5 separate regions of the Homo sapiens genome follow, and regions 1, 2, 4 and 5 are each linked to region 3. Evidence: fine-mapped expression QTL. A gene starts in region 3. Each other region holds a variant in brackets. All regions are shown on one strand. Distances are from middle to middle. Region 1 overlaps PRKAG2 (protein kinase AMP-activated non-catalytic subunit gamma 2). Region 2 overlaps PRKAG2 (protein kinase AMP-activated non-catalytic subunit gamma 2). Region 3 holds the start of PRKAG2 (protein kinase AMP-activated non-catalytic subunit gamma 2). Region 4 overlaps PRKAG2 (protein kinase AMP-activated non-catalytic subunit gamma 2). Region 5 overlaps PRKAG2 (protein kinase AMP-activated non-catalytic subunit gamma 2).

The links. PIP is the estimated chance that this variant, and not a neighbour inherited with it, causes the effect.
Region 1: its variant is the best candidate, but not a certain one, in a credible set for the expression of PRKAG2 in monocytes after interferon gamma (Fairfax 2014, PIP 0.71).
Region 2: its variant is the best candidate, but not a certain one, in a credible set for the expression of PRKAG2 in tibial artery (GTEx, PIP 0.62).
Region 4: its variant is the best candidate, but not a certain one, in a credible set for the expression of PRKAG2 in nasal epithelium (TOPMed, PIP 0.63).
Region 5: its variant is the best candidate, but not a certain one, in a credible set for the expression of PRKAG2 in whole blood (INTERVAL, PIP 0.53).

Annotation. Positions count from the first base shown.
Region 1 is chr7:151,556,457-151,562,492 of GRCh38, forward strand. It overlaps PRKAG2 (protein kinase AMP-activated non-catalytic subunit gamma 2), which reads right to left. Exons shown (of 16, transcript NM_016203.4): 15 at 4,068-4,161; 16 at 1-776. The coding sequence ends at 745. Among named protein-coding and RNA genes, the nearest start is that of RHEB, 40 kb to the left of the region's middle. RefSeq lists an enhancer at 3,187-3,481. The variant C/G (reference allele first, on the strand shown) is at 3,431.
Region 2 is chr7:151,678,438-151,684,473 of GRCh38, forward strand. All of the region lies in intron 3 of PRKAG2 (protein kinase AMP-activated non-catalytic subunit gamma 2), which reads right to left. Among named protein-coding and RNA genes, the nearest start is that of PRKAG2-AS2, 120 kb to the right of the region's middle. RefSeq lists enhancers at 1,830-2,497, 4,216-4,801, 4,802-5,385, 5,386-5,970. The variant G/T (reference allele first, on the strand shown) is at 2,945.
Region 3 is chr7:151,873,967-151,880,002 of GRCh38, forward strand. It overlaps PRKAG2 (protein kinase AMP-activated non-catalytic subunit gamma 2), which reads right to left and starts at 3,149. Exons shown (of 16, transcript NM_016203.4): 1 at 2,541-3,149. The coding sequence starts at 2,654. PRKAG2-AS1 (PRKAG2 antisense RNA 1) reads left to right here and starts at 3,076. Exons shown (of 3, transcript NR_038926.1): 1 at 3,076-3,174; 2 at 3,871-3,900; 3 at 4,596-5,257. RefSeq lists an enhancer at 1,892-2,011 and silencers at 2,202-2,341, 2,402-2,451, 3,214-3,643.
Region 4 is chr7:151,698,302-151,704,337 of GRCh38, forward strand. All of the region lies in intron 3 of PRKAG2 (protein kinase AMP-activated non-catalytic subunit gamma 2), which reads right to left. Among named protein-coding and RNA genes, the nearest start is that of PRKAG2-AS2, 110 kb to the right of the region's middle. The variant T/C (reference allele first, on the strand shown) is at 2,712.
Region 5 is chr7:151,618,403-151,624,438 of GRCh38, forward strand. All of the region lies in intron 5 of PRKAG2 (protein kinase AMP-activated non-catalytic subunit gamma 2), which reads right to left. Among named protein-coding and RNA genes, the nearest start is that of RHEB, 100 kb to the left of the region's middle. The variant G/A (reference allele first, on the strand shown) is at 3,007.

The DNA.
Region 1 (6,036 bases), 320 kb before region 3:
CGGCTATTTCAGAAGTCATGTCCTTTCCAGATCCAAACTTAAATAATGAGAAATTTGCCATTTCAAAATAACTGAGAGTTTATTCATGGATGTGGTGAAGTTTACTCCACCAAAAGATGTGTAAAAAAATTGCATGAAAGTAAAAATAAATAAAGCTGTTGTAAAGCAGCCTCGTTGACACGGTAGCCCAGAACAAAACACTTACGTGTAAAAGTGTCATTACAATTTTAAAGTAATTATTTATATTCAAATTACAACTTTTTGACAAATCTAAAGAAAACAAACTGATTTGGTAAAAGGTTCAAAGACTTCCACATTCAAGCTCGGTGTTGTTTCACACGCGTGCGCCCCGGCTGCGGCGGTGACATATTGCTGTATTCGGACATAAGGCACTGTGATCTGAACATACCGTGCACTCACCTTATGCCACATCACCTGTTCCATACCAGTGAATTCTTTGAAATGAAAAATAATGAAAACTTCAGGACACAGTGCACTTTAATGACATACAGCATTTAAAATCCTTCAGACAAAGGTCTGAAAACAGTCTTTTAATGCAAGCCTGAATCTTCAAGCACATAAAATCTTTCTTTTTTAAGCTTAATTTCAACATCACTGGAAGAAATACCTATTGTTAAACCCTGATATACATTCTTAACCACTTGCAGCCAGTGTTCATGAGGCAAAACGTGACCCAGAGACTTTGTTCAAGTTCTCCTCCTAGGGCGTCTACATTCACGGCGGTCACTCCGTTTCTGTCTCCTTTTGTTTGGCACCTGTCAGTGGATGGAAGATGAAAGTTTCAAAGCTCATGGTAACAGCAGGGTTCTCTACCCCAGGGGTTTCTACCTGTGTCTGGCAGTGCCTTAGGAGGATGATCCAGAGGCTTCGGAGGAGGGCGATGTGGGAAGGAGCAGGTGGCCCAAGCTCCCATCTCCCACCCAATCGTTCGGGCAGCTTGGATCCACGTAACATCTTGTCATTCTAAATATGTCAGATTTAACTTGGAAAACAAAAAAAAAGAATTCCACTCTTAAAAAATTTTACTAAGAAATATGTAGGTATGTTTTAGTGAAGGTGTGAAGTATTTCAGTTGTGCACTCTTACAAATATGTATTAAAAAAAGGTTTAGGCCGGGCGCGGTGGCTCACATCTGTAATCCCAGCACTTTGGGAGGCCGAGGCGGGCGGATCACCTGAGATCAGGAGTTCAAGACCAGCCTGGCCAACATGGTGAAACCCTGTCTCTACTAAAAATACAAAAATTAGCTGGGCGTAGTGGCGGGCGCCTGTAATCCCAGCTACTTGGGAGACTGAGGCAGGAGAATCGCTTGAATCCGGGAGGTGGAGGTTGCAGTGAGCCGAGAGATCATGCCATTGCACTCCAGCCTGGTTGACAAGAGTGAAACTCCGTCTCAAATAAAAAAAAAAAAAACAAAAAAACAAAAAAAAAACCTTTATAAATATTCTGAAGGATAATTGCACCTAACAAGTATCTGGCTAGGACATTCCACAGTGGATTGGCAGGGAGAGCTACTATTTTTCTCATCACAGGAGCTTCTCTCCTAATTTTTCACCAGACGCTAGACCCCTGAAAGAGATCGGCAATCTATTAGAGCGTGTGGCTGAAACACCGTAGCTCCTGGCATCAGACTGCCCACACACTGGATGCACGCACACATGGGTTCATTTGGACAGTCTAAGTTTGACAATGAACTGTTGCTAAAAACTTTTTTGAGAAAGAGAAAGTGTTATTGTGTTGAACCAGTACCCCTCTGGGGAACGGTGGCCATTGCCCGATGAAAAGAATCACCACTAGTACCTTCTAATCGAGTAACAGCAGACACTTCATCAAACTGCCTCTTACTGACTATTCCATGGACAACCACCTAACAGTGCAGGTCCCGGGCACTGCGCCTCATTGCACACACATGGCTTTTGTGCACGGCTTTCAGCTCTTTTCATAGCAACATAGGAGGGAGACGGGCCTGTATCAGCCGGCTCCTTCTCTACTGAAGAAATTGGGGCTGAAGGAGGTGAAGCGACTTGCTTACATTCAGACAGCGCTCGGGTGGGACAGCTGGGACTTGGCCTCACGGTGGGGGCCTCCTCACTTGCGATTGTTGATCAGATGCAGGCGCTCCCTGAGTTCCACTCCAAAAGTTCACTTGTAATCCAGTTATTAGTAACACGGAATGTTTTCCTCAACAAATCGTGTTGTATACACTGTATCATAAGGAATTCCAACCCAGCTACCCCCATCTTCACGGCACAATTTCTATGGTAACATACATTCCAAATTCCAGCTGGAAATAGATTCCTCTCTGCACCAGCAGTGATGGGAGGGGCATTGCAATGACTTAGAATTTTTGAAATACCAAATCTGGATGGAAATTTGAACTCATCCAGCACAACCGTTCATTCTTATGGTTTGAGATATCAAGAAACAGAGAGGATGAATCGCTTGACTTGTTTACTCTTTTTGTAATGCCCAAAGAGACAGACAAGAGCTGACATTCAGCCTGACCCGCTGGGCAGACTGTGTCCCGTGGTCCAGGGCTGGAAACGGGGCATCTTTTTCTGAAGGTGCCAAGCTATATACCTGTGGGGATAAATCTGCCCAGAGAAGAGGCCTTTTCTAGTTAGCACAAATGTGCTGTGCAGTTATGCCTGCCTGGAAATTTATATGAATTTAATGATGGTCTGGATGAGCCTGGCTCCCTCTGTTCAATGTTGCCTGTGAGATTCCTCCACTGTTGAATGCAGCTGTACTGTTCGTTTTCAATCCTGTATCGTATTCCATCGAATGAATGTGACACAATTTATCCATTCTTCTTTTCAAAGATATTTGGATTATTCCCAGTTTTATGGCATTAACATTCGTTTAGTTCTTAATGTTTCATGATTATAGAGACTATTGTGAGATTCAGGTCTTTTAAACACTTGAAGTTTGCAAGTGACTGCACCAGGCCCCATTTCTAGAGTTTCTGATTCAGTGGATATGGGACGGGGCCCCAACATGAACATTTCATTTTCTAGTAAATTCCAGGTGGTGGTGATGATGCCTGGCCTGAGGACCACCTCGGAAAAATCACTGCTGTACTGGAATTTCTCTTGGTGTTCTCATTTAGCGAATAAGACATGTTTCTTGCAGGTGGTGAAGATTCCTTTAGGGTAGGTATTTTTGGGTTACAGACTTAATTGTAAAAACTAGTCTTAACTGAAATTTCTGAACTAAAGAGAAATCAATACTGTAGCACACACACCGTTTAATATTGGATTCTGAGAGTTCAAAGGGCATGCTGTTTGCTCCCACATCGGGTCCATGTGGCCCTGACAAAGGCTGGGTTGTTCATATTTGACTGGGGCTGGGGAGGTGGAGGGATGGGAAGAGGAGGAGGGAAGGGAGGGCTGGCAGTTTTAAGAACTCT[C/G]AAGCCCACCTCTTACTACTGAGTGTGTGAAATGAGAGGAAGGCCAGCTCCTCTTGTCTAAAGCCCTCTCCCGTTCTCTCTGCTCCTCACTGTCTGAGACTCTGAAGGCTTGCTCAAAGTGAATCTGTCAAAAAATGAGTTTAACCACACTCTATCTGAAAGTGAATGTGATTTCTGTACAATATTAATGAATAAAAGTTTGTGTTTAGGTATTCTGTTTTATCTACTCAAAATATAAGTTTTTTTTCTCTTTAAGGAAAGATGAAGGTATCAAATAGAAGCCAGTGACGTTCCCTCTATGTTTCTGGTCACTAGTTCTCTCACAAAGCACAATTGAAGAGGTCTTTTCAGTGGAAAAGGTTATGATGAACATGGCAATGGCTCCCAAGTCATTTAGGGGGCCACTGGACCTTGATAGGATGCTCTTAACTTCGAATACGTTCTATACACTTTCCTCACTCACGCAGAACACTTAAACTTCCCAACTGAAGAGAAAACGAAAATGGTTTCAAAGTAATATACTCAAAGCCTTGATCTGTAGGTGGGTGGAGAAATGATGGTTTAAATGCTGCACTTCCTGTTCTACCTCCCACCCTTCCTAGACGCCGATGGCAAAGGTCAGAAACCAGCATTTTACCTGCTGGTGTGAGGATCAGGGCTTGCAGAATGTCCGACAGGGAAATAATACCCACAATACTATCTGCTTCATTTACCACCACCAGCCGATGGACCTGCAAAGAGAAAAGCAGGACACGTGAAAATTAACATTTAAAAAAGGTTTAAAATGGACATGAGAAATAATGTCCTGTCATGTTTTTATATGATCAACACATCCCTCCAGCCTGGGGAATAGCAGTGAGACATCATCTCTACAAAAACATTAGACAGTGGCTGGGTGTGCTGGTGTGCACCTGTGGTCCCAGTTACTTGGTGGGAGGATTGCTTGAGCCTGGGAAGTGGAGGTTGCAGTGGGCCAAGATCGCACCAGTGCACTCTAGCTTGGGTGACAGAGTGAGATCCTGTCTCAGAAAAAGAAAAAAGCAACACACACACACACATCCCATAAATGAATAAATGAGGGAAAGTAGCCACAGACAGACCCATACGATGACCTTAGGCTCTAATGTTCAATGTGTTACTGTCTGATTACCTGGAAGACCTACTCCGTATTAAAAAGTCACAGCCCTGGTGAAAAACAGGGACACAGGCATGAGAAGGAAAGAGGGGAAAGCTATCTATCTCCTGTCTCTAATGATACTGATTTGTCTCTAATTCAAGCTGATTTGCTTGCTTACTTTTAAGAAAAATGAGCTAGCTATGCCCTGCTGAGTTTTCAATTTTCAAAATATTAATATAGAAAAGATACAACTCAAACACGAAACACAACGTAGCTATCATACATTGTTAAACATAACTGTTTTAATTTCTAAAAGTTGTATATCAGTTTCTAATAACTATCAGGTACTTGTCTTATTAATACATGGGAGAGAAGTCCAGATGATGACAGAAACGAAGAAACAAGGTCGCAGCTCTTACAAGGGTTTTATTTTCTGCAGTGTCTTTTCTCTGTGAAGTTCATATATTAAGAATCGCATCCAAGAGGATAAATGAGCTATAATGAAGTGGGATAGACTACGTCCATCTCTAGTTTTCTACTCTGAAATCTCTGATGAGTGACGGCAGAGCGTTTTGAGGTGTTTCTGTAACAGGCCTTTCACCCGCAGGAAGGGAGCGGCGTTGCTATTCTCTTAAAAGCTTCATGATGGCCGGGCGCGATGGCTCACGCCTGTAATCCCAGCACTTTGGGAGGCCGAGGCGGGCGGATCACCTGAGGTCAGGAGTTCAAGACCAGCCTGACCAATATGGTGAAACCCTGTCTCTACTAAAAATACAAAAATTAGCCAGAAGTGCTGGTGGGCACCTGTAGTCCCAGCTACTCAGGAGGCTGAGACAGGAGAATTGCTTGAACCTGGGAGGTGGAGGTTGCAGTGAGCTGAGATCGTGCCACTGCACTCCAGCCTGGGCGACAGAGCGAGACTGTGTCTTAAAAAAAAAAAAAAAAAGGCTTTGGAACCTGGAGCCGGGTGCGGTGGCTCACGCCTGTAATCCCAGCACTTTGGGAGGCTGAGGTGGGCGGATCACAAGATCAAGTGCTCGAGACCAGCCTGACCAACATGGTGAAACCCCGTCTCTACCAAAACCACAAAAATTAGCTGGGCGTGGTGGTGCATTCCTGTAATCCCAGCTACTCAGGAGGCTGAAGCAGGAGAATCGCTTGAACCTGGGAGGCGGAGGTTGTAGTGAGCTGAGATTGCGCCACTGCACTCCAGCCTGGGCGACAGAGTGAGACTTTGTCTCAAAAAAAAAAAAAAAAAAAAAAAAAAAAAGGCTTCAGAACCTGGGCCACGGCAGCTCTGTGCCGGCTGCGCCCTGGGAGACCCTCTCTGTATTGAACAGTGATACCCCTGATAGAAAACAGGGACATAGGAAGGAGATAGGAAGAGGGGGAAATCCAGTTTTTGTATTTTGTCTCAAATAATACTGTTTGGGTGATGTTTCTGTCATAGGTTGCTTTAGGTTAATAATAATAATAATAATAATGGCTT
Region 2 (6,036 bases), 200 kb before region 3:
GGCGCATGTTTTGTTTTGTGTGTCCGGGGGAGGTTTAGGAAGTCACCTATTAGAGAAGGAGCCCCCTTTTCCAGGGAGTCCCTTCAGGAGACTGAGCAGTGTGAGTGGAAAGCCCTCTGGAAGCCCCGGGCTGGCACTTGGGAGGCAGCTCTGGGTGGAAGCAGGAGGAGAGGGTTAGGACCCGAAACTTAAAATGTAAAAGGCCCTCACAACAAAGTCCCAAACTCTTGAAAAATAGAGGCCAGGTGCAGTGGCTCATGCCTATAATCTCAGCATTTCAGGAGGCTGAAGTGGGTGGACCACCTGAGGTTAGGAGTTCAAGACCAGACTGGCCAACATGGCAAAACCCCATCTCTACTAAAAATACAAATATTAGCTAGGCGTAGTGGCGCGCGCCTGTAGTCCCAGCCACTCCAGAGGCTGAGGCAGGAGAATCGCTTGAACCCAAGAGGCGGAGGTTGCAGTGAGCTGAGATTGTGCCACTGCATTCCATTCCAGCCTGGGTGACAGAGTGAGACTCTGTCTCAAAAAAAAAGAAAAAAAAGAAAAGTAGAATATTTTCCCCCAAAGGTCTTGAGAAGAAAACCCTGCTTTGAGGTGGGGTGGGGAGGAAGGAGAGGGAAGAGGAAGAGTGGGAAGGTCCTGATGTGGTTTAGCAGCTCTTCAGAGATGGGGGTGTGTCAGCAGGCAGGACCACAAAAGGGCTGCCGGCCCATCCGGACCCTTCTCAGGGCCAGGCTCCAGCTGCTTGGCACTGAGAAATAGAGACAGTAGCCAGGGCTCGGGGAGGCCTGCCCGGGGCCTCTCAGGGGGATCTGCAGGGGCAGAGCAAAGAAGCCTGTGTGCTATTTTGTGTGTAGTGTGGGGCACTGCCTGGGGCCTTAGACCCCAGAGTCATATCCTTCAGTGGTTCCTGCAGCAACAAAGTCTCCAGCAGGGGCTCGTCCTGGTCCCACAATGCACCTAGGACAGGCTATCTCCTCTCCTGAGAGTCAAGAGGGAATGTTCTCATCCTCCTCTCCCAGCCCCTTTCCCCACTGGACACAGGGCCCCTTCAGTGGCACTTCCCGGGGGCTGTGCCCCTGCTTCCTGTAGGCATGTGCAGGGACCTGATGGGGCAGAGCTGAATAGGATGTGGTGGGGGGCGTTTTAGGTTCAAAAACCTGTGCCACCCCCCACATCCTCATGACCTGTGACAGCCCTGCAGAGAAACCCCTCTGGGGGGCTGGGGTCTTCGTGTGTAAAGGAAGGGGCCAGCCACAGAGATCTCTAAAGCCTCCTCCATGGACAATGCTGAAAAGTAGCTATGTCCATCCCTGAGCAGGGCATGATCAAAACTAGCCCTGGCCAGGTGCGGTGGCTCATGCCTGTAGCCCCGGCACTTTGGGAGGCTGAGGGAGAAGGATCACTTGAGCCCAGGAGTTTGAGACCACCTAGGGCAACATGGCAAGACCCTGTCTCTATTAAAAAAAAAAAAATTGGCCAGATATGGTGACATATGCCTGTAGTCTCAGCTACATGGCGAGATTGCTTGAGCCCAGGAGTTCAAGGCTGCAGTGAGCTAGGACTGCACCACTGCACTCCAGCCTGGGTGACACAGCAAGATCCTATCTCACAAAACACAACACAACAAAATGAGCCCAAACTGCACCCATGCAGGCATTGGGCAAAGGCCCAGAGGAAACAGGTACTCTGTGGTGCCTATCTAGGCACCACTGATCAAAACCACAAACGCGCATGTTCCTGGACCCAGTAATTCCATTTCTGGGGCCATAGACTTATTTGTGTAATTGCTAAGTGTCGACTGTACTAAGTGTCGGCTTATTCATTACCATGGTGCTTTTAAAAGCAGAGCCTGGAGACGCAGAGGCTCGTCAAGAAGAGGTTAGATAAATCATGGCCCATCTGCAGGCACAGGCAGCCACCATTCCTGTCGGAACATGACAGGGATCCTCGTTCCTTTCATCTCCAAGATGGAGCGGTAAGTGAAGAAAGCCAACTGCAGAGCCATCTGTATCGAATGATACCATTTGTAGTTTTGAAAAAAGGAAAGAAAGTATCTATATTCTGCCTGTCTGATTTTGCCTAGACTATCTCTGGCAGGATCTGGAAACACTGGCTGTCTCCAGGGAAGGGAACAACTGGCAGGGAGGACTTTCATCATATCCCCTTTTTGATTTTTCAAACTTTCTATCATGAGAATGGATTATCCATTCAGAAAATTACTTCTTTTCAGCCACTGCTTTGCTTTTGAGCCAAGAGGCTGGCGAAGGCCATATTTAAGCACTGACCTGCTTCCTGCCCTGCCTGCCCCGACGCGCCCCCCAGCTCTGTGCAGGGGTGTCTCCCACGAGGACCAGGACCAGGACCTCTGTCCTGTCTCCCACTAGAATCAGGGCCATGGCTGTGCCTTCCTGAGCTGTCCTCTCCCTTGCTCTTTCTCTTCGAGAAGTTTTTCCACTTCCAACATTCTTCAGGGATGAAGCTTAGTCACTGTTGTGCAAGGGATGTTCACAGCCCATGAAAACTCCTTGCTAGTTCTTTGGGTACAGAACGTTCATCTTTCAAGTAAACAGTTTAAAGAGAATGCAACTGTGACCAAGCCCCTCCCCACCCCCTGCCGAGAGCTCTTAAGAGCACAAACCACGGTGTCCGCTCCTCCCATGGCCCTGTCCCCTTGCAGGCCACCCCCGTGTGAGTACTGGAATGATCCTAACCCAGTCCCAAAGGAGGTGAGAGAGGTGGCGGGATGCAGGAGTGAACCTCTGGGGCCGAGGAGATGAGAAGGTGGACTGTTCATTTGGGGGTGGGAACACCTCATTTCTGGTGGGGCTGAATGATTCTCTATCATTGCCATCTTTCCAAGTTCAGAAGCTGCTCCCATCTTTCCACCTGGCCTTCCTGTTCCTTCCAGAGCTGGTGACTCCTGTGGGGAAAACAGGTG[G/T]CACTCTGGACTACAGAGGGGGAAGGGAAACTTTTAGAGGAAGGGACAGGTGAAATGCTGAGACTCACAGTGTGTGCATTAGGGATATGTGTGTAGTTAGGGGCATGGGGAGTGAACCCTCCTGGAACCTAACATATGCCCTATCTGTTGACTGATACCCGAAATGTTTTTAAGAGGGGGTAGAGTCTTGCAGCATCAACACTTTTTTTTTGTTTTTTGCACGATGCCACCCTGTTTACAGAGGGCTTACACACTCTGGCCCCCTCTGCCCCTCACAGATGAAGAAACTGGTAGCTGGAGAAAGTTCAGCTACTTATCCATGGTCCTTTAGCGAATAAATGGCAGGGACCACACCTCAGCTCCACTGTCCTGACTCTATAACCCAGACACTTTCTGCCACAATCAAACTGGGGTATCACCGAGAGAAAGAACATGAAGACTTAAAATTACATTTTAGCTGTATGAATTACTCTCCCAGAAGTGGGGCTTCACGGGGCCAACAGGAAGGAGAGCTTGGATGACACTGGGTGACTGCAGAGGGAAAGAAGAGGTGCCACAGAAGAGAGAAGGGCACAGAGACGGAGTGAGCTTGGGACCCCATGTGCTTCCTAAGGTGGGACAGCCCCATGTAGGGAGGGACAGGCTTCCCCCAAAGAGGGTTTTCTTCCATGCCAGCCAGGAAGGGTAGACCAACAAAGAAGTGACTTCTACTCAGGTTTATGCTATTCAATCAGTAGAGAAACAACTGTCTTATGAGTCAGGTAAGGTGGGTAGTAAGAATGATTCCTAAGCTTTTTTTCTTTTCAATGTTGGTATCACTATTCATAAATAAAAGGGAAAATGGGCAATGCTGACACAATCCCTCATTACTTTTTTTGAGACAAGGTCTCACTCTGTGGCCCAGGCTGGGGTACAATGGTATGATCACGGCTCACTGCAGCCTCAAACTCCTGGGCTCAAGTGATCCTCCCACCTCAGTCTCCTGAGTAGCCGGAACTCCAGGCAAATACCATTACACCAGCTAATTTTTTTATTTTTGTAGAGATGGCATCTTACTATGTTGCCCAGGCTGGTCTTGAACTCCTGGTATCAAGTCACCTCCTGCCTCAGCCTCCCAAAGTGCTGGGAATATAGGTGTGAACCGCCATGCCTGGCCCCCCATTACTTTTAAATAGACCAATGTATTTCTTAATCATAAGGTCAACTGCTGAACTCAACCTTGGGTCTGATCAGTAAATGAATAGTTCCTGGACAGCTTCCACGGGCCAAGTATGCTGGGGGTGTTGAGGAAGGAGGTGCTAAGATGGATTAGAGCAAGTCCCTGTAGTCTGTAGGAGAAATGGGGACAAAACCAAAAAATCAGCCCCAACACCACCATGCAATAAAGTCGAGAACCAGGAAAGCAGGGGGGAGCTCAGGGAAGAGGAGAGGGCCTGAGGGTGGGGGTGGGACGGTGGCTCAGAAACCCCAGGAAAGAGCTGGGCCCCGATCCTGGAGGAGGACACAGGTCTGCCCCGGCCCAGGGGCCTCTCCTAAGGGCCCAGGCAGAACTGGGCCATGGCCAAAGTCACCCAAGAAGGCTCTGGCCAAAGGACAGACAGGTGCCCCCTTTCTGTTCCTTCTGAGAAGACATCTCCTCCTTTTTCCTGCTCCTTAAGGACTTTGTTTAGGACGCCGCCAGCCTCTGCAGTGAACAATGCCTTTGATTCTCCCAGGGCGGCAGCCAGGCCCAGTGAACAGCCCAGCGAGGGAACAGAAACTGCTCCTGGCAGCCACACAGAACACCACGAAAGGGGGTCCAGACACTGGGGAGCCATGGGCTGGTGACTTCACAGGGCCTGGCCCTGCTGGCAGGCGCTGGAGAGGAGGAGGAGGAGAACAGAGGTGCCACCAAAGGGAACTGAGCCCTGCTGGAACGGAATAGCTGTGCTGGGTGGAAACAGAGGCCTGGCCCTCAGAAGCCCCAAGCTCTAGGTCTGGTTTTACCACTAAGTTGCCATGGGCTCTGGGACAAATCCACCCCTTGCCTTGGTAAAAATAAACCAGGTAGACCAGATGCCTATCTGGTGCAATCCGGCCCCTCCACTGCGTAAATGGAATGAGCTAGAGCCTCATTCCTGCCTGAGGAACGGAACGACAAGAAGGAAGTAATGTATTCTGCTGACTGTTGTTACAAGAGCCATGAAGTGAGAAGAGCAACATTTCCATTGACACTGGAGGGAGGCTTTGCTTATACAGGGTTTTGAAACCTCCTACCACTCATCAGAGTGAGGGGCCAGGTGTTGTTCCCTACTTTGGAGGGAGGATGGCGAGCGCCGTGAGGGGGAACGGTGGCCCAGGGAGGTGCCCAACGAAAGTGCCACAGCCAGAGAGGGACAGGAGTACCTGTGCTGAGTAGCTGTAGCACACAGAGGGATGCAACCAGCAGGCAGGCGGAGACCCTGGGCGGCGCGAGACCCTGTGTGACACAAGTTCAGGCCAGGCAGGTGACCCAGAACCCAGCCTCTGATGTCTGCTTAGGACTCTGTTTTCTCAAGGAGCAAACCCACTGCTTCAATGTTTTGGCCCTTTCTCAGGTGCCCTCTGGCCTGGCTCCTACACCCTCTCCCCGCACGGCCCCTATTGCCCGCAGGTTTTACCTTCCACCCCTCATTCCAGAGCCCTACCCTCCAGGGCCGCTGGAGCTGAGTGCCCAGCCCTCTGACTCCAGAATGGCTCTGGGCAGTGCAGGCAACTGCAGGAGGCTGGGGGAGCCAGGGAATAGAGGGGCAGTATCCTCAGGGACCCTGCCTGCCATGCCTCCAGCAACTCCTCTTCCCCTCGTCGCTCCAGGCCTGGGCGGTAATGACTCCTGAAACCCTGCCCACACCCCTGGGAAAAGCCCCTTCAGAACCCCAGCTGAATGTCCTTGTTTCCTGCCCCCAACGATACAGTTTCCAGCCTCCACTCCCAAACCAGGATAAGGACTGGCCAGCACCGTGGAAGCAGCTGAGCTCTGGGGCCAGAAACCTGGGCTGGACCCTAAGTCACCACTCGCCAGCTATGTGGCCTCAGAGGAGTCAGCTCAGAGGCTTGCTTCATTCTTTGAACAT
Region 3 (6,036 bases):
TATGTATATGATGTATATGTATATGTATATGATGTATATGTATAAGTATATGTATATGATGTATATGTATATGATGTATATGTATGTATATGTATATGTATATGATGTATATGTATATGTATATGATGTATATGTATATGATGTATATGTATATGTATATGATGTATATGTATATATGTATATGTATATGATGTATATGTATATGATGTATATGTATATGTATATGTATATGATGTATATGTATATGTATATGATGTATATGTATATGATGTATATGTATATGTATATGATGTATATGTATATGTATATGATATATATGTATATGTATATGATGTATATGTATATGTATATGATGTATATGTATATGATGTATATGTATATGTATATGATGTATATGTATATGTATATGATGTATATGTATATGATGTATATGTATATGTATATGATGTATATGTATATGTATATGATGTATATGTATATGTATATGATGTATATGTATATGTATATGATGTATATGTATATGATGTATATGTATATGATGTATATGTATATGTATATGATGTATATGTATATGTATATGTATATGTATAAGCCATACATTTATAGGACACTTTACACTTGTCAAGAGTTTTCCCGGGATGGGTGTGATGGCTCACGCCTGTAATCCCAGCACTTTGAGAGGTCAAGGTGGGCGGGTCACTCGAGCCCAGCTCATGTGGACCAGCTTTGGGCAACATGGTAAAACCTCATGTCTACAAAAAAAATAAATAAATTAGATGGGTGTGGTGGCACATGCCTGTAGTCCCAGTTACTCAGGAGGCTGAGGTGGGAGGATCACTTGAGCCTGGGGAGGTTGAGGCTGCAGTGAGCCATGATTGCACCACTGCATTCCCACCTGGGGAGCAGAGTGACACCCTGACTCAAAACAAAAAAAACAATAAAAAAGAGTTTTCCCATGAATTACTTTATTTCAATATCCGTATAAAGCAGGAAAAATGGGTATTATTTCCTGCATTTGACAAATGGGAGAAACAGTAGTTACACGGTTAGCTCAAGTGATCACTGTTTAAGAGGTTTGTGGCAGCAACATCTAACTTTTAACTCACGAACATGGTTTTAAATGTCTTACATGAGAGATGTAAACAAGAATGTTTCATTTTCAAATAGAACACTTATTCCTGCATAATCGAGTCACCACCGTGGGGGCCACACAGCAGCCAGGGGTCCAAGTTTCCAGCCCCAGAGCTTTCCAGCCAGGGAGGGCTGGCCCAGGGCCCCTGTGGGGCTACTTGGCATCAGGTGTCTGGAGACCCGCCCCTGGACTCCACCCTCTTCACCCAAGCGTTAGGCACGTGTGGGCCGGAGTTTACACAGGAGGACCTTAGCGGGGCGTCTAAAAGAAGGGTGGCTCAGCAAACACGGGGCAGTGCGCCCTGGGATTCACAGTGGGAAGTGAGTGGCCTGCCTCGGCCATGCCAGCTGCGCCTGACCCTGTCGGGAAGGATTAGCTTTAATGAGGGGTCCGGACAGCCCATTCACTGCGCACTCCCACCCTGCCCCGGGAGAGCAAAATAACTTTCTCTACGGAGCACTCTGGTGTGTGTGTGTGTGTGTGTGTGTGTGTGTGTGTGTGTGTGTGTGTGTGTGTACACAAACATTTACTTGGTTGGCTGAGGCGGAGGGTGTGACCCAGTGGGCCACACCTCCCACCGCCCTACCCCGCTACGTGGAGGCGAGGAACAGTGGCCGCGGGCTACCGGGGCGCCTTCCGAAAAGAGAACCACTACGCGGCCCGCCGCCCCTCTGGCTGGACAAAGTGAAGCCGCAGGCAGATCCGAGTCGCCAATGTCCTCCCGGGCGGCTGGCGCGGACGGGGCTGAAGTTCAATGCAGCCTGCACGGATTAGGGAGCTCCGAGCCCCCAAATACCACAGAGACCCAAAGTACACTCCCGGGGCGGGGGAAGGGAACGGCGGCAGAGGAGACCCCCGCTCCAGGCCCAGAAACGCCCGGAGAGAAACTGGAGCGGAGGGGGTGCATTGGAAGACGCAGCTACACAGCTCCCCCCAACCCCCGCCCCGCTGCTTTCCCCACCCACCGCCCCTCCCCTCTCCTCCCTCCCCTCCCCTCTCTCCGTCTCCAGCAGCCGAGCGCGGGCTCCACCTCCCCGGAGCGCAGTCCACACCGTCCCTTTTCAGCAAAACAACACAACGCACCGCCCCCCGCACCCGCACCCGGCTGGATACCGGGCTACGCCCAGCCGCCCACCCGCCGCGCCCGGCGCCCCCTCTAGTCTGCAGCCGCCCAGCCCCCGCCCCAGGCGGAGCCCCAGCCCTGGCTGCACGCGGGCAGAGAGAGAGATTGAGCCCCGGCTCCGCCAGCCCAGCTCGGGCCCTGTCCCTCTACCCTTTCCCCAAGCCGCCCGAAGTGACAGGAGGGGCACGCACGGCGCGCGCGGGGCGTCCAGCGTTAACCGCTTCGGCGCCGGGGACGGGAGCGACAGGAGGGCTGGGGAGCAGGGGACCGAGTGCTGGGACTCACCGGAATGTGCACGCGCAGCGAACGCCTCTTCTGGCTGGCATTTTTCTTGCCGCCGCTCCCGCCGGGGCTGGAAACATCTTTTTTCTTCTTGGTGTCCATAACCGCGCTTCCCATAACTCTAACCAGAAGTTGATTCTGCGAAACTCCTCGGGGGTTCGGTCCCCTCCTTCCCTCCCCCGGCCGCTGCCTTCGGACTGGAGCCGCGCGCTCTGTTACACCCTGAAGCCACCTCGTGGGGACTTCCGCGGAGAGGGAGGGTGAGCAGGGAACTCGCGCGGCCGCCGCCGCCGCCGAAGCGCCGAATTCAAGCGTCCTTTCCTACGGAACCCTCGTAGGCAAATCAGTCAAAGCCCGTCCCGGTTCTGGTGTCTCCCCGGGTTACTCGTGGCTGAGGTCTCCCGCTGGGTGACAAAGTTTTCTTCCTTTTGCAAAGCTAAGAAACATTTTCCACCCTCTCGGCTCCTCCCACAGATTCCCAGAGGTAATCTGAAAGGCAGGTGCAATTAAAACCAGCAATTTGGAAAACAAGCCTCCTATGCCTGTGCCCAAGTGGGGAATCTGGAACCAGTAAGCCCGTTCGTGCATAAATGTAATCCTCGGCCGCAGAATAAACCAGCTCGGAGCCTGCAGCTGGGTCCGTCCTCCTTTCTGGGCGAGAGGGAGGGCGGCGGGGGAAGAGGAGGTGCAAGGCGAGCCCTCTGCGCAATTAGGCTACGGGCGGCCGCTGGCAGAAGTTCTGGCGGCGGCGCTCGCGGCCCTGCGCGCCGGAGGGGGCGCCCGGAGTCCAGCGGGCCAAGAAGGGCAGGGCGCCCGCTCCTCGCCCCCCGCCGCGCCGCGGCCCCAGGGGACCGCAAGGGGACAGTGAGGGGCCGGGCCTGGCACCGACGCAAGCTCGGGGAGCGCGGGTGGTGGGAGGCGGCGCGTGTTGAACAGGAAGTGCGCGGCGTGCAGCGCCACCGTCCCGCTCCCCGTCGCCCCACGCCGCCCTCGTCGCCGCGCCCAGACCCCTGCGGCGGCCGCAGCCGCTTGGGACTCGCTGCGAGCTGGTTTCGGATCCATCCCGCCTCCCGGCGTCTCACTGTGTGCCCTACCCTTTGAAACACGCCCCCGCGCCCGCCCTGCCGTAGACCAGGCAGCGAGGAAGCCCACAGTCTCCGGGGGCGCTGCGCGCGAAGTAGCACGTGCTTCTCGAAACACCGCAGCCCCCGGGTCCCGCCCCGCCCGGCGCGCGCACTCGAACCCGCCCAGAGAGCGGTGCGTGGCGCTGGGTGCGAGCAGGGTCTAGCCACCCCCACCCTCACCCCACCCCACCCCACCCTGCTTTTTTCAGGTTCATCAAGGTTTGCGCAGTGGATCCGCGGTAAGTGCGTGTCCCCACGCCGCGGGAAACGTGGGGCTCCTGAGACTGCGGAAAGAATTGGGAGAAGGGGAGGGCTCGAAGACCCGGGCGAGGGTTCCCGGTGCGGCCCAGGTCCTTTAGAGCCCCGGGTGGGCATCCAGTACCGCCTGCTGCCGAGGGCCCTAGAGGGGTTGGGGGAGGGGGCTGGTGTGTCCCCCACCCCCAGATGCGCCCCAGGATGGCGCGACCTCGGCTCCCTGGTGGAAAGTAGGGGGAGTGCTGGCTTGGGGGTCGCTTCCCCTCCTGCTCTAGTTTCTGAGGATGTGATGACCCCAAAGGTCATTGGCGCTCCCAGAATGCTGACGTCAGCTCAGCCGCTCCGAGTAATCAGTAATGCAGGGAGGCCACCCGCAGAAAGAACGCGACAGGGGTCGCTTTGGGGACACCATAGGGCCTTTACTCCTTTTGAGGTGCGTGCTTTCGCAGGACTCCCTCCCCAGAGGAGGAGGCATGATCAGCCCACCCAAAGGATCATCTCTTAGGAAGCAGGCGTGCGCCCACGCAGGGAGAAGCATCCTTCCTTTCAGCTGCTTGCCGGGTGGCTTTTCCAACCCGAGTTCCAGCAGCTTGCACAAAATCCTTACAGCTTGGGTGGTTCCCTGGCTCATAGGGGTGGGTTTATATTCTTTCTCCTTCTCCTCTGCTCTCTGGTCCAGAATGAAGCCAGCCTGGAAGATCCCCAGTCTCGAGACAGAGCCTGACAGGGGCAGATGCACTGGAAGGACCCTGTCTGGGTTTAGCAACCAAGCAGCCATCCTGGCCCCACAGGTGTGGGACTTCTGGGTCTTCTCCTGGCTGGCTTCTTGCTAGAGGATTTCAAGAGACCCAGCAAGACTGTATTGTCCCACTGAATGCTCAAGATATTGGTTAGAAGTAGAAAAGGGGAGGGGGTAGTATTTAGCCTCTGTCCCCACTAAAAATTATTCCCAATTGTCATTTGTGTCATCTGTTTAGCTTACAGTTTTAATCCTTGTCAAAATGATCATTTGCCAGGGTGCATAAAACACCCTATTTGATGAGAACTGGTTTTAAAGGAAAATGGGGCCATCAGAAGGAAGCCGGTTGGTGTGAAGAGACGTCTGGGAAGAGCCCCTGGCGAGGGCCCTCATTCCACTGGGTGACCCAGAAGGAGAAAACCGCGATGGCGCTTCTCATTTGAAATGTTTTCTTTATGGACAGTGTTTAGCAATTGTTATAATGTGTACTTTTGTTGATTGATCTGTATACATATGTAAAATAATTTGTTCTCTGAGTTAATTTTGTTGGAACAAAGACTTTAGTGCTTCCTACATTAAAACATTTTACTGTATTGCCTGCATTTTAAGAGCCTTTTTTTAATTTTTAATTTTTTTGGTCCTTGTGATATGACGAGGTATAAATTCTGGGTTTTGTCCAGGGTTCCTGGCTTAGCACTCTCGTCGCCCTCATCACAGTCTCTTGTTATAATGTTGGGGCGCTTTAGGCCTCAGACACCCCAGGAAACAATCTCCTCTGAACTTCCCCTGCCCTCCTTCACCACCTCACCAGCCCAAGGCAGGACTCTAATCCTCCCTCATCTTTCTGATTGTGGGACTTAAGACCCTCTATTCAGAAGGGGTCCTGCCCCATTCCCGAGAGGAAGAAATCCTGCACGGAAAGGCCAATAACGGTCGGAATAGGCAGGACTTGTTTGGGTGTCCACACTTACTCAGTCACTATTGGATCATACCTTTTTGTTCGATCACATTTCTGCATGGTCGTCAATCGTGTCTGTCCAATGAAGTCTCCTTAAGAAGCCCAAGAGGTCTGGGTTTGGGGGCTTCTGGATCCCTGGACATGTGGAGGCTGCTGGAAGACGGGGTGCCTGGGAAGGGCATGGAAACTCCGTGCCTGTTCTCCCTGTACATCCCATCATCTGTGTTCTTGGTAATATGCGTTATAATAAACCAGTAAATGTACATTTCCCTGAGTTCTGTGTTCCACTCTAGCAAATTAATGAACCTGAGAGGGGGTTGTGGGAACCCCAATTGAGAGCCCAGCCTGTCGGTCAGAAGCTCCGGATGCCTGGACTTGCAACTGCTGTGCGAAGTGGGATGGGGGTGGGGTGCCTTGGGGATT
Region 4 (6,036 bases), 180 kb before region 3:
GCCTCCTCCTGGTTTTTCCCTTCACTGTCCCATCCCCCACCCCCTCGCCTGTGCTTCCTGGGATCATCGCTGGTATGGTTTAGGTGTTTTGTCCCCTCCGAATCTCATGTTGAAATGCGACCCCCGAGTTGAAGGTGGGCCTGGTGGGAGAAGTCTGGGTCATGGGGGCGAATGTCGTGGTGCTGTCCTCGTGGTAGTGAATGAGTTCTCGCTCTATGAGTTCACACGAGGCCTGGTTGTTTGAAGGAGACTTGCACCTCCTCCCTGTCTCTTGCCCTCTCACCATGTGACACCTCAGCTCCCCCTTTGCCTTCTGCCATGACTGGAAGCTTCCTGAGGCCTCGCCAGGAGCAGACACCAGCACCATGCTTCTCCTACAGCCTACAGAATTGTGAACTGAAATCAACCTCCTTTCTTCATAATTTGCCCAAACTCAGATATTTATAGTGACACAAATGGACTAACACAATCTCCCAAACCAACTCCCTGACCCTTGTCACCAGCTCTGCTTTTGAGGGAATCCACATTACAGGCAGGGGAATGGGTGCAATGGATACCAGCGTCAGCCCCTTGCAGACCTATCCAGATGCAAGGACTTGGCTCTTTGGACCACTCCAAGCCACCCTGAGATGCCACGTGGAACCCTAGGAAAACCCACCTCTGCAAGAAGGTCCTGAAATCAGGTAACTTCTCGCTACAGTGTAAATGACTGATAGGCTCAAACGGGCCGTGGGAGGGTTTCAGGACAGGGTACAGGAAATGACCTGCAAGTCTGCAGAGCCAGTCTGCAAACTCTGGGGAGCACCCCTCAATGCCCTTAGGCCACCTTTCCTTCTCTGACCTCTGTCCCCATCCCTGCCCCAAGTTGTGTCTCTTTGACACCTGGGATGTAAGCTGTGAAAGCTAAACTGCACTGTAGTTGGAGACTCTTGAGAAACCGAATGAACAATATTTCTGAAGATCTCCCACGAAGGTTGCCTCCCTCCCTGCGGTCAGGCTGCCTGCAGGCCTAGTCCCAGCAGATCTCCGGGAGATGCTGACTGCTGGCCGGATGCCTGTGTGGTTACGATCCGGTTACATCTCAGCCCCCTGCTGAGAAAGAGGCGCTAAGGTGGCCCTGGAGCCGTGAATTCACTGGGATTGAGATCATCTCGGCGACTTTATCATGAAGGCCAGCACAGGAGGCCCCTCCTTCCTGTTGGAGATGTTTAGTTTTATGATTAAGAAATGGCAAAGGGCCTTTCAGACTACTTTTGCTTTGAAATAAATCAGTGAATCAATGAGATGAGAAGTATTCACTGGGCACCGGCTGTACAGGGAAGAACTGGAAGTGGGATATGCAGTGCCTGGGCTTGGGGTAACAGAACCCAGCCTACGGGCCAGAAAGAAATGCATGAGCCATTAAGACAGTGCAGGAAGCATCTGATGGAGGACACGTCAATCTTTTCATCAATCATTGAAAGCAGGACGAGGAGGCTGGGACACAGCAAGGTGCTCAGGCCCTCAGAGGAGGCAGTGGGGAGGTTCTTGATATAGGCTGGTCTTTAAGAAGGACTGGGACTAAGATAAACTGGGGTACATAGCGGAGGAAGAAGGGAGTAGAGGGGCAGTGCTCTGCTGCCACAGGCGGCCGCAGATGGGTGCCCCCACATTGCAGAAACAGCCTCAACAGGAGCCTTGTGTACCTGCCAACATTTTGCTGCATACAAGATTAATGAAATAGTTCCACTGAAATCTGGTGATGGAGTTCTCGGCAATGTGGTTTTTGTCCTGTCATCTCATAGGAAACAGGTCTTTGAATAAGTCATTGCATCATTGCAAAATGATGTTTCCTCCCCAACAAGGGAAATCGGGGGTGACGTTTAGCAGCTCCTTCTGCAGCAGTGTTTTAAGTTGAGTGGCTAGAAAAGAAAGAGGCGTATTATACGCCGGGCTGTGTTCTGGGTGCTGGGGACAGTGAACACGACAGAGAAGAGCCCAGCCCTCGTGGAGCTCAGGTTTGTAGACTCTGGCTCCTTGGAGTATGGTCTGAGGACCAGCAGCCTGTTTGTTAGACACGCAGACCTCCAGGCCCCCACCCCAGACCTACGGAGCCTGAATCTGCCCTTTGACAAGACTCTTCAGTGACCGACAGACACGTCAGGGTGAGATACGCGGCTGTAGGCCAGGGGTTCCGAATTTTGGCAAGAATCAGGACCCCCTTTTTAACGCAGGCTTGTGAATCTGTGGATTTCTGAGCCCCACCCTCAGAGATTCAGATTTGGGAACTGGGATGGAGGTCCAGAAATTGGCTTTTCTGATGAGGTTCCAGGTAATGCCAGGCCTGCCGGTCTGGGGCTCACACCCTGAGAGCCACCTGCTGTAGGAGATCATCTGAGTTCTGGGAGAAGACTGGGGCTATCTCCGCCACGCGTCCCAGGCCCTGGAGAAGCTGACGGTAGCTTCCAGGCTTCCCCTTATGTGGCCAGGCCATAGTTCCCTTAACCTCCCACACCCATCCCCTCCACACGGGGGGAGCCTGGCCTTGTGCCGAACCCCAAATAATCCTCAGTGCTTGGCCTGCCCGTTTAGAGGTCAAACATCCATGCAGAACCCATCCAGCCTGCCCGGGAAATCCGAGCAGGGATCACACAGGATGTCCCAGGCATTTCCACACAGGCGAGACCACAGAGCATTATGCAGCCTTGATGTGCCAACTGAGTCATGCAATG[T/C]GCTGCACACACGAGCACCCAGCAGACGCCTGTCCTCTCCTCCCCTCAGCTGTCAGGCACAAGAGTCCACCCCCTTCCACCTCCCACTCCTCAGGGGCTGCCCCCCAGGGAAGCCCCACTGGAGCAGGCACCTGACCCAGACCTGAGGCCTGCGTCACTGGGCCGGGGGAGGAGGAGGTCTGAACAGAAACACTAAATTAGCCACCTTCTCCCTCCAGTCTCTACCTGTGCTGTCCAAGAGGCAGCCACTGGCCTCACATAGCTATTTCTTTATAAAATTCAAGTTCAGCTCCTTAGTTGCTGTTATGGGTTGAAATGTGTCTCCCCAAAAAGATACAATGAAAACCTCACCCTGGTACCTGTGCATGTGACCTTAGACATAGGGTCATTGCAGATATAATCAAGTTGAGATGAGGTCATACTAGGGTGGGTCCTCATCCAGTGGCCGGTGTCTTTATAAGGAGGAGGAAACGTGGACACAGATACACAGGGAGATGGAAGCTGAGATTGGAGCGGTGCATCTTTTTAAGCCAAAGAATAAGGATTGCCGGCCGGGCGTGGTGGCTCACACCTGTAATCCCAGCACTTTGGGAGGCCGAGACGGGCAGATCGAGAGGTCAGGAGATGGAGACCATCCTGGCTAACACGGTGAAACCCCATCTCTACTAAAAATACAAAAAATTAGCCGGCCTGGTGGTGGGCACCTGTAGTCCCCAGCTACTCGGGAGGCTGAGGCAGGAGAATGGCGTGAACCCGTGAAGCGGGGGTTGCAGTGAGCCGAGATTGCGCCACTGCACTCCAGCCTGGGCGACAGAGCGAGACTCTGTCTCAAAAAAAAAAAAAAAAGAATAAGGATTGCCGAGAACTGCCAGAGGCCAGGAGGCAGGTGGGGAGCAGGTTCTCCTTCAGGGCCTGCAGTAGAAACCAACCTTCCCACACCTTGACTTCAGCCTTCTGGCCGGCAGAACTGTGAGAGAGTCAGTTTCTGCTGTTTGAAGCCACCCGGTGTGTGGTGCTCTGTTGTGTATGGTAGCCCTGGGTGCTAATCCAGCTGCACTGTCCGTATTTCCAATGCTCAACAGCCAGATGTGGCTGGTGGCTACCAAGATGGACAGCATGGATACAGAACACTTCCCCCTGTGCGGGGAGTTCGATTGGAGGGTGGTGTTCTGCAGAATGCTTTCTAAGAAAGAAGCAAAGGTTAAAAGTTTAATTTTCAGAAAAAGTTGCTGGGGTAGCCCAGTTGCATCTTCCACATCCTTTACATCCCTAGTGCCGGTCCCCCAAAAGAGAGAGGAGGCCTCATCATCAAAGGGACATCAGTAGGCACACACTGACTCTCTTCCCTGACATGAGAAAGTCCACCTAGACATTCAGGCCGGAGCTTTCGTCCATGCTGACAGCAGACGGATGGGGATGCAGGTCCACACTGATCCTGAGAGTCCCACCCACAGAGGGAGCCCCCACGGCAGTCTTGCCAGGTCCCTGCCCACCCGCTTGCCTTCCTTCCCCTATCTCCTCTCCCCATCTGCCAGGAAGCCCATCAGGGCACTGCCAGGTCCGCTCTGTACACAGACAAATGCAACTTTGAAGTTTCACACTCACCAGTTGGCAATGCATTCCTTAGGATGGAGGCATTCATAGTCCCAAGAATCCCAAGTTAAAATACTCTCAGGAGAAACACCAAGTCCTGTTATTGGATAATAAGACTCTAGCATGAATTAATGATCAGAGTGAAGGCCTGGGGGGCACAGCCCCTAGGATAGCAAAGTTTTGGTTGAGGGGATGAGGTGATGGCAAGGAGGGCGAGGACCAGAGCCCAAAGGTCTCTCCTGGGAAGGGTCCAAGTTCAGGACTGTAGGTCTGGAATGCCAGAAGCTGGGGGTGATACCTCTCGCCTTCCAGTTCCGAGAACTGGAGCAAGTAGAGTGAATGTCAAACTGCCAAGGGCACGATTTTGCCTCTAAGCATCCGTCCATGTACTACTCACCTCTGCTCATCTCTCCAGGGACCCAGCCTCTATGCTGGGCTCCCTAACCTGCCTGCCCAGGGAGAAAAGGGAACACCTGGCAGAAGACACCTCTGCCAGCCCTTCAGCCTCTCACATTGCCTGCTGCTCAAATAGCTCATCTTTCTTCAAGGCCATGATGGCTTCTCTGACTCACTCATCAGCGCGCGCGAAGCAAAGAAGGAAAGAGGAAAAGCGCACCTTCTCCGTCACAGTGAATGGCACCCTGCAAAGGACTGCGGGTGCTCTAAGAAAGGAAATCTGTTTTCAGAGCTCCTGCAGCTGCTTTTCAATGTGTCTTCAGTTTATTTTACCAATGAGCAAATAAACTGGTGTTTCCCCTGCAGTGTCTTCTGCCCAGATAGCAGCGATTCTGCTCTCCGCTGTGGCCGGAGCACTGGATGGCTCCGTCAAGCCCTCAGTTGTCTTACTGATGAGAACAACTCAAGGAACTTCTCCCACATCATCTGGCCACTTGGGCTTTAAAAAATGTTTTATGGAGCATAATATAGAAAAGTGCACACATTGAGAGTGTACAGCTTGACAAATTTGCACAAAGTTCATGCATCCATGTAACCAGCACCCAGAGAAGGAAAGGAATGTTACTACCCACATGGCAGCCCCCTTCAATCTCCCTGCCAGGCACCACCTGCCTCCTCAGATAATCATCATCATTCTTTTTCTATTTAAAAAAATTTTTTTGGCTGGGCGCGGTGGCTTATGCCTGTAATCCCAGCACTTTGGGAGGCTGAGGTGAGTGGATCACAAGGTCAGGAGTTTGAGACCAGCCTAACCAACATGGTGAAACCCTGTCTTTACTGGAAAACACACACACACACACACACACACACACACACACACACACACACACACACACACACACACACACAAATTAGCTAGGCATGGTGGCAGGTGCCTGTAATCCCAGCTACTCAGGCGGCTGAGGCAGGAGAATCACTTGAACCTGGGGGGCGGAGGTTGCAGTGAGCCGAGATTGCGCCATTGCACTCCAGCCTGGATGACAGACCGAGACTCTGTCTCAAAAAAAAAAATGTGGGTACATAGTAGGTGTATATATTTATGGGGTACCTGAGCTGTTTTGAAAGAGGCATGCAATGTGAAATAAGCTGGTCACGGGGAATGGGATATCCATCCTCTCAAGCATTTATCCTTTGAGTTACAAACAATCCAATTACACTTTTTAAGTTATTTTAAAATATACAATTAAGTTATTATTCACTACAGTCACCCTACTGTGCTATCAAATAGTAGGTCTTATTCTTTCTAACTAATCTTCATGATTCTAGCATCATATGT
Region 5 (6,036 bases), 260 kb before region 3:
AGATCATGCCACTGCACTCTAGCCTGGGCAATAAGAGCAAGACTCCGTCTCAAAATAAAATAAAATAAAATAAAATAGGCCGGGTGTGGTGGTGGCTCATGCCTGTAATCCCAGCACTTTGGGAGGCCGAAGCAGGTGGGTCATTTGAGGTCGGGAGTTTGAAACCAGCCTGGTCAACATGGTGAAACCCCGTCTCTACTAAAAATACAAAAATCAGCCAGGCATGGTGGTGGGCACCTGTAATCCCAGCTACTTGGGAGGCTGAGGCAGGAGAATTGCTTGAACCTAGGAGGCGGGGTTTGCAGTGAGCTGAGATCGCACCATTGCACTCTAGCCTGGACGACAGAGAGAGATTCCGTCTCAAAAAATAAAATAAAATAAAAACCCCTAAGTTTTTCTAAAGTGCCTAGAAACATGAACAGAAACAAAGGCAAATCTTAAACATAATTTTACAGGATTTACAATTATAAGGTGGCAGAATAAATGAAGTCTGTTACTTTTTTTCCCCTTTCCATGCTTTTTGCATTTGGTTTTGTGTGTGGGGGCAAATGTGTACACGGGCGAGAAAATGCACACACTCTTCTAAATAAGGGGGCAGTAAAAGAGTTATTAGGAAAGAAGAAAAAGCACAGGCAGGATCAAGGCAGAGTTTGCCCAATTAGTTCAAAGTGAGTTGCAATCGATGCCTAAGGAAAGTCACGGACAAAGCAATGACCTTGAAATTGTATGTGGCTCCTGTCAGAATTTTAAAATGGTTTTGCATAGAATTCTAGGAACTATTAATACATAATTAAAGCATCTACCACAGCCAATGATTCCTTTCTCAGGGAAGAAAACCCAGTGATGAAGCTGGAGAACGGTGATGGCCAAGGAGAGCTCACAGGGATGAAGCAGCAAGCACCAGCCAGGCCAGAAGAGTGAGACCCACCTTGGCAGGTACAGTGGAGCATCCATAATCCAAAAACGTAAAATCCCAAATGCTCCAAAATGCAAAACTTTCCGAGTGCCAACACAATGCCATAAGTTACCCTGAACACATCGGTTTTTCACTGTATTTATCAGTAGCATAGAAATACAGAGTCAGGAACGATGGTGATGCCAGACTGTCCACAAGGGTGGCTGAGACAGTGGCACCTTTGCTTTCTGATGGTTCAATCTGTACAAACTTTGTTTCATGCACAAAGTTATTAAAAAATTGTATAAAATAACTTCAGACTATGTATATAAGGTATATATGAAACATGAATTTCGTGTTTAAAATTGAGTCCTCATCCCCAAGATATCTCATTATGTATATGCAAATATTCCAAAATCTGAAAAAAATCAGAAAACCGGCTAGACGCGGTGGCTCATGCCTGTGAAATCCTAGCACTTTGGAGGGGCCGAGGTGGGAGGATCACCTGAGGTCAGGAGTTCAAGACCAGCCTGGCCAACATGGCGAAACCCCATCTCTACTAAAAATACAAAAATTAGCTGGGCATGGTGGCGCATGCCTGTAATCCCAGCTACTCGGGAGGCTGAGGCAGGAGAATCACTTGAATCCAGGAGGCAGAGGTTGCAGTGAGCCGAGATCGCGCCACTGTACTCTAGCCTGGGTGACAGAGCGAGACTCCGTCTCAAAAATAAAAAATAAAAATAAAAATAAAAATAAATAAATAAATCAGAAAACCTAAACATTTCCAGTTCCACGCATTTGGGAGACTCAACCTGCACCAGGAATTATACAGCTGCTGCCCCCGCTGGCTGTCATGAGGTATACTTTTAGCTACTTAAAGAAGTTTCCTCATATCCCTGGTTTATTAACGATTTTTAAAAAGGAACATATGTTGAATTTTATTAATTGCTATTTCAGTATCTACTGAGATGACTACCAGTTTCTCTCCTTTATCAACAACATTAATTCCTTAGGCAATTTCTTCTTTTTCTTTCTCTCTCTCATTCTTTCTTTCTTTCTTTAGAGATAGGATCACATTATGTTGCCCAGACTGGCCTCAAACTCCTGGGCTCAAGAGATCCTCCTACCATGGCCTCCCAAGAAGCTGGGACTAGATTTCTCAATAGATGGCTTTGTTTTTTTGTTTTGTTTTTTTTTTGAGATAAGGTCTCACTCTGTTGCCCAGGCTAGAGTGCAGTGGCATGATCACTGCTCACTGCAACCTCAAATGGCCAGGCTCAAGCAATCCTCCTGTCTCAGCCTCCTGAGTGGCTGGGACTACAGGCATCCGCTACCATACCTGGCTAATTTTTTTTATTGTTTGTAGAGATGGGAGTCTCGCTATGTTGTCCAGGCTGGTCTTGAACTCCTGGCTTCAAGTGATCCTTCCACCTTGGCCTCCCAAAGTGTTGGGATTACAGGTGTTAGCCACCACATCCAGCTCCTTAATAGATTAAAAAAATTTTTTTTTAATTAAAAAAATTAAAGATGGGGTTTTGTCATGTTGCCCAGGTTGGTCTCGAACTCCTGGGCTCAAGTGATTCACCCACCTTGGCTTCCCAAAGGCCTGGGATTACCCGATCCACCCATCTTGACTTCCCAAAGGGCTGGGATTACCTGAGCCGCCCACCTTGGCCTCCCAAAGGCCTGGGATTACCGGCAAGAGCTACCTTGCCCAGCCTAGATTTCTTAATCAACAGAAGAATACTTGCATTTCTAAGATAAACCTTACTTGACCACAATATATTCGGCTTTTAATCCTGCATAGCTAGTGTTTGTTTAGGAGCTTTGGCCACATTTTAAATGTAAGACTGATCGCTTGTTTTCTTCTTTGTGTGCTATCTTCCTCTGGCTTTGATTTCAAGATCAAGCTAGCCTTACGGAAGGAGCTGGGAAGTGCTCCATATTTTCCTATGTTCTAAAATAATTTAAATAAGGCATTAACTGTTCCTGAAAAGTTTTACAGAATTCATCCATAAACAGGCTGAATAGAATGGTATGCTCTTCTGTAGCAGAAGAGGAATAAGACCTTTCATTATCTTATTTAAAAAATAGCTTTGTTGGGGCTGGGT[G/A]CAATAGCTCACGCCTGTAATCTCAGCACTTCGGGAGGCTGATGTGGAAGGATGGCTTGAGCCTAGGAGTTGCAGACCAACCTGGGTGACAGAGTGAGACCCTGTCACAAAACAAAACAAAACAAAACAAAAAACCAACAAAAATAGTTTGAGATATAATTCACATTCACAGGTTCGCCAATTTAAAGTGTACCATCTCTGTTGCCCAGGCTGGAGTGCAGTGGTGTGATCCTGGCTCTCTGCCACCTCCACCTCCCAGGCTCAAGCAATCCTCCTATCTCAGCCTCCCAAGTAGTTGGGACCACAGGCGTGCACCACCACACCCGGATAGTTTTTGTATTTTTTTTGTTGAGATGGGGTTTCGCCATGGTGCCCAGGCTGGTCTTGAACTGCTGGGCTCAAGGGATCCTCCCACTTCAGTCTCCCGAAGTGCTGGGATTACAGGCGTGAACCACCATGCCCGGCCGGTGTGCTTTGATCAACGTTACTTTTAAAGATCTCTGCATTTATAGTTAAGAAGCTTCTCTTCTTTCTAAAGCTTTGCATTTTCTCCCATTTTTTCCTGAACAGACTTGACAAAGGTTTATCCACTTTACTGACTTATCCAAGAACTAAGTTTTTGTTTTTATTAAGCATGACTACCTTTGTAGTTGATTTCACTGATCTATGTCATTTCAGTAGACTTTAGGAGGGAAGAGAGGTAAGTGAATATATTCAGCAAACCGCTGAGTCACAAGAGTGGCAGAGCAATTTGGTGAATTCATTCTGATGAATTCAAGATGGGCACTTCATCCAAGTCCCCGCAAGTGTCCTGAAGTTTGAGACTCTGACAAAAGGCTATCCTAACTCACAATGAAACACTGGAGTTTCGCAGAGATTACACATACGTCCATAAATGTGTGCACCTCTTTGGGGTTTTGCAATATAATGGATCTTTCTGTTGTGCGTCCTCTGACAGTTTCTACTATGGCGTGCCATTGTTTTTACACTGTGTGACAGCACTGACAAGAATTACTACTGCAAATCAAAACACAAAAAAACCATTGGCAGAGCCATTACAATAAGTCACCAATAGAAGATGTCAGGTAGCAAGCCAGTGTTCACCAATGGGGACTACTCAAGGTACTCCCAGTTCAAATGGGAGGCAATGGAGAAGACAGAAGCATCTAGACCAACCCTAGGTCAGAATTGTTACTGCCTTTCTTGTGAGCTTGAACAAATTGATACCCTTGAGCCTGAATTTCTTCATTTGTAAAATGGTGACACACCATCTTTCCTGAGAGCATTTCTCAGGAACAGGGATAAGCACAAACATCCAATCGCAAAAGCTGCCAACTATATGTGGCATACATACCTGTGTCCACATGGGGCAAAGTCTGACAGTGCAGAAGAACAGAATCGCTGGAATCACTTTAAATTTTTGCTCGGTTTCTTCTTGTCTTCCTAGTCATCATCGCAGTTACTGCTGATGGAGACTGTACTACATCCCAGGCCCTCTAATGCAGCGGTCCCCATACTACATCCCAGGCCCTCTAATGCAGTGGTCCCCAACCTTTTTGGGAGGGACCAGTTTCATGGAAGACAATTTTTCCATGGATGGGGGAGCAGGGGGATGGTTTCAGCATGAAATTGTTCCACCTCAGATCATTTGGCATGAGTTAGAGTCTCATAAGGAAGGCTGGGCACGGTGGCTCACGCCTGTAATCCCAGCACTTTGGGAGGCTGAGGCAGGCAGATCACGAGGTCAGGAGTTTGAGACCAGCCTGGCCAACATGGTAAAACCCCGTCTCTACAAAAATACAAAAATTGGTTGGGCATGGTGGCAAGTGTCTGTAATCCCAGTTACTTGAGAGGCTGAGGCAGGAGAATCGCTGGAACCTGGGAGGTGGAGCTTGCAGTGAGCCGAGATTGCGCCACTGCACTCCAGCCTGGGCAACAGAGCAAGACTCTGTCTCAAAAAAAAAAAAAAAAAAAAAAAAAAAAGCTCATAAAGAGTGTGCAACCTAGATCCCTTGCTTGTGCAGTTCACAATAGGGTTCGCGCTCCTATGAGAATCTAATGCTGCTGTTGATCTGATAGGAGGCGGAGCTCGGGAGGTAATGCTCGCTCGCCTGCTGCTCACCTGCCGTGTGGGCCGATTCCTAACAGTAGTGGTCTGTGGCTAGGGGGTTGGGGACCCCTGCTCTAGTGGATATCATGCCCATGTTATTTAATCCACATATAATCCTCCTGGCTAGGTACTATTATTATTTCCAAGTTACATATGAAGAAACCAAAGCTTTAAGAAACTTACTAAAGTTCTCACAGTTATTAAGTAGAAGAAATGAGACTCTAAGGTGAATCTGACTCATGCTCTTAATTGCTATGGCTCTAATTACACATGCATTAAAAAAAGGGGGGTTACATCGTATGTATGTATAAGCTTCAAAGCTAGAGAAGTCAACGTGAAGACTGAGAGCCAAGGAAAGAGGGTAAATAAGCGTCTTACAATGCGCATGTGTGTACTGGGGAGGAGGTCTTGACGGAACAATGAAACATTCCACTTCCAAGAAAATGTGGAAAATGATTCATAAAATAACAACTTATTGCTAGCAACTTCCTGTCAGTTACAAATGACCAAAGTACAACCTAAAATAAAATGAATCAGTTAGCATGATGTTCAGAAACCTCATTGATGTTATATAAATTCAGATACATGGGAAACAGCTCCAAGTGGGACAGAAGGCAGCGTGTGTGTGTGTGTGTGTGTGTGTGTGTGTACATATATATATATTTTTTTTTTCAGATAAGGTCTTGCTCTGTTGCCCCAGCTAGAATGCAGTGATGCCCTCATGGTTCAGCACAGCCTCAACCTCCTGGACTCAGGAGGCATGGGACTCACCTCCCATGTCTGGCTAATTTTCTGTATTATTTATTTATTTTTATAGAGAGAGGGTTTCGCCATGTTGCCCAGGCCGATCTCGAACTCCTGGACTCAAATGATCCATCCACCTTGGCCTCCCAAAGTGCTGGGATTACGGGGTGAGCCAC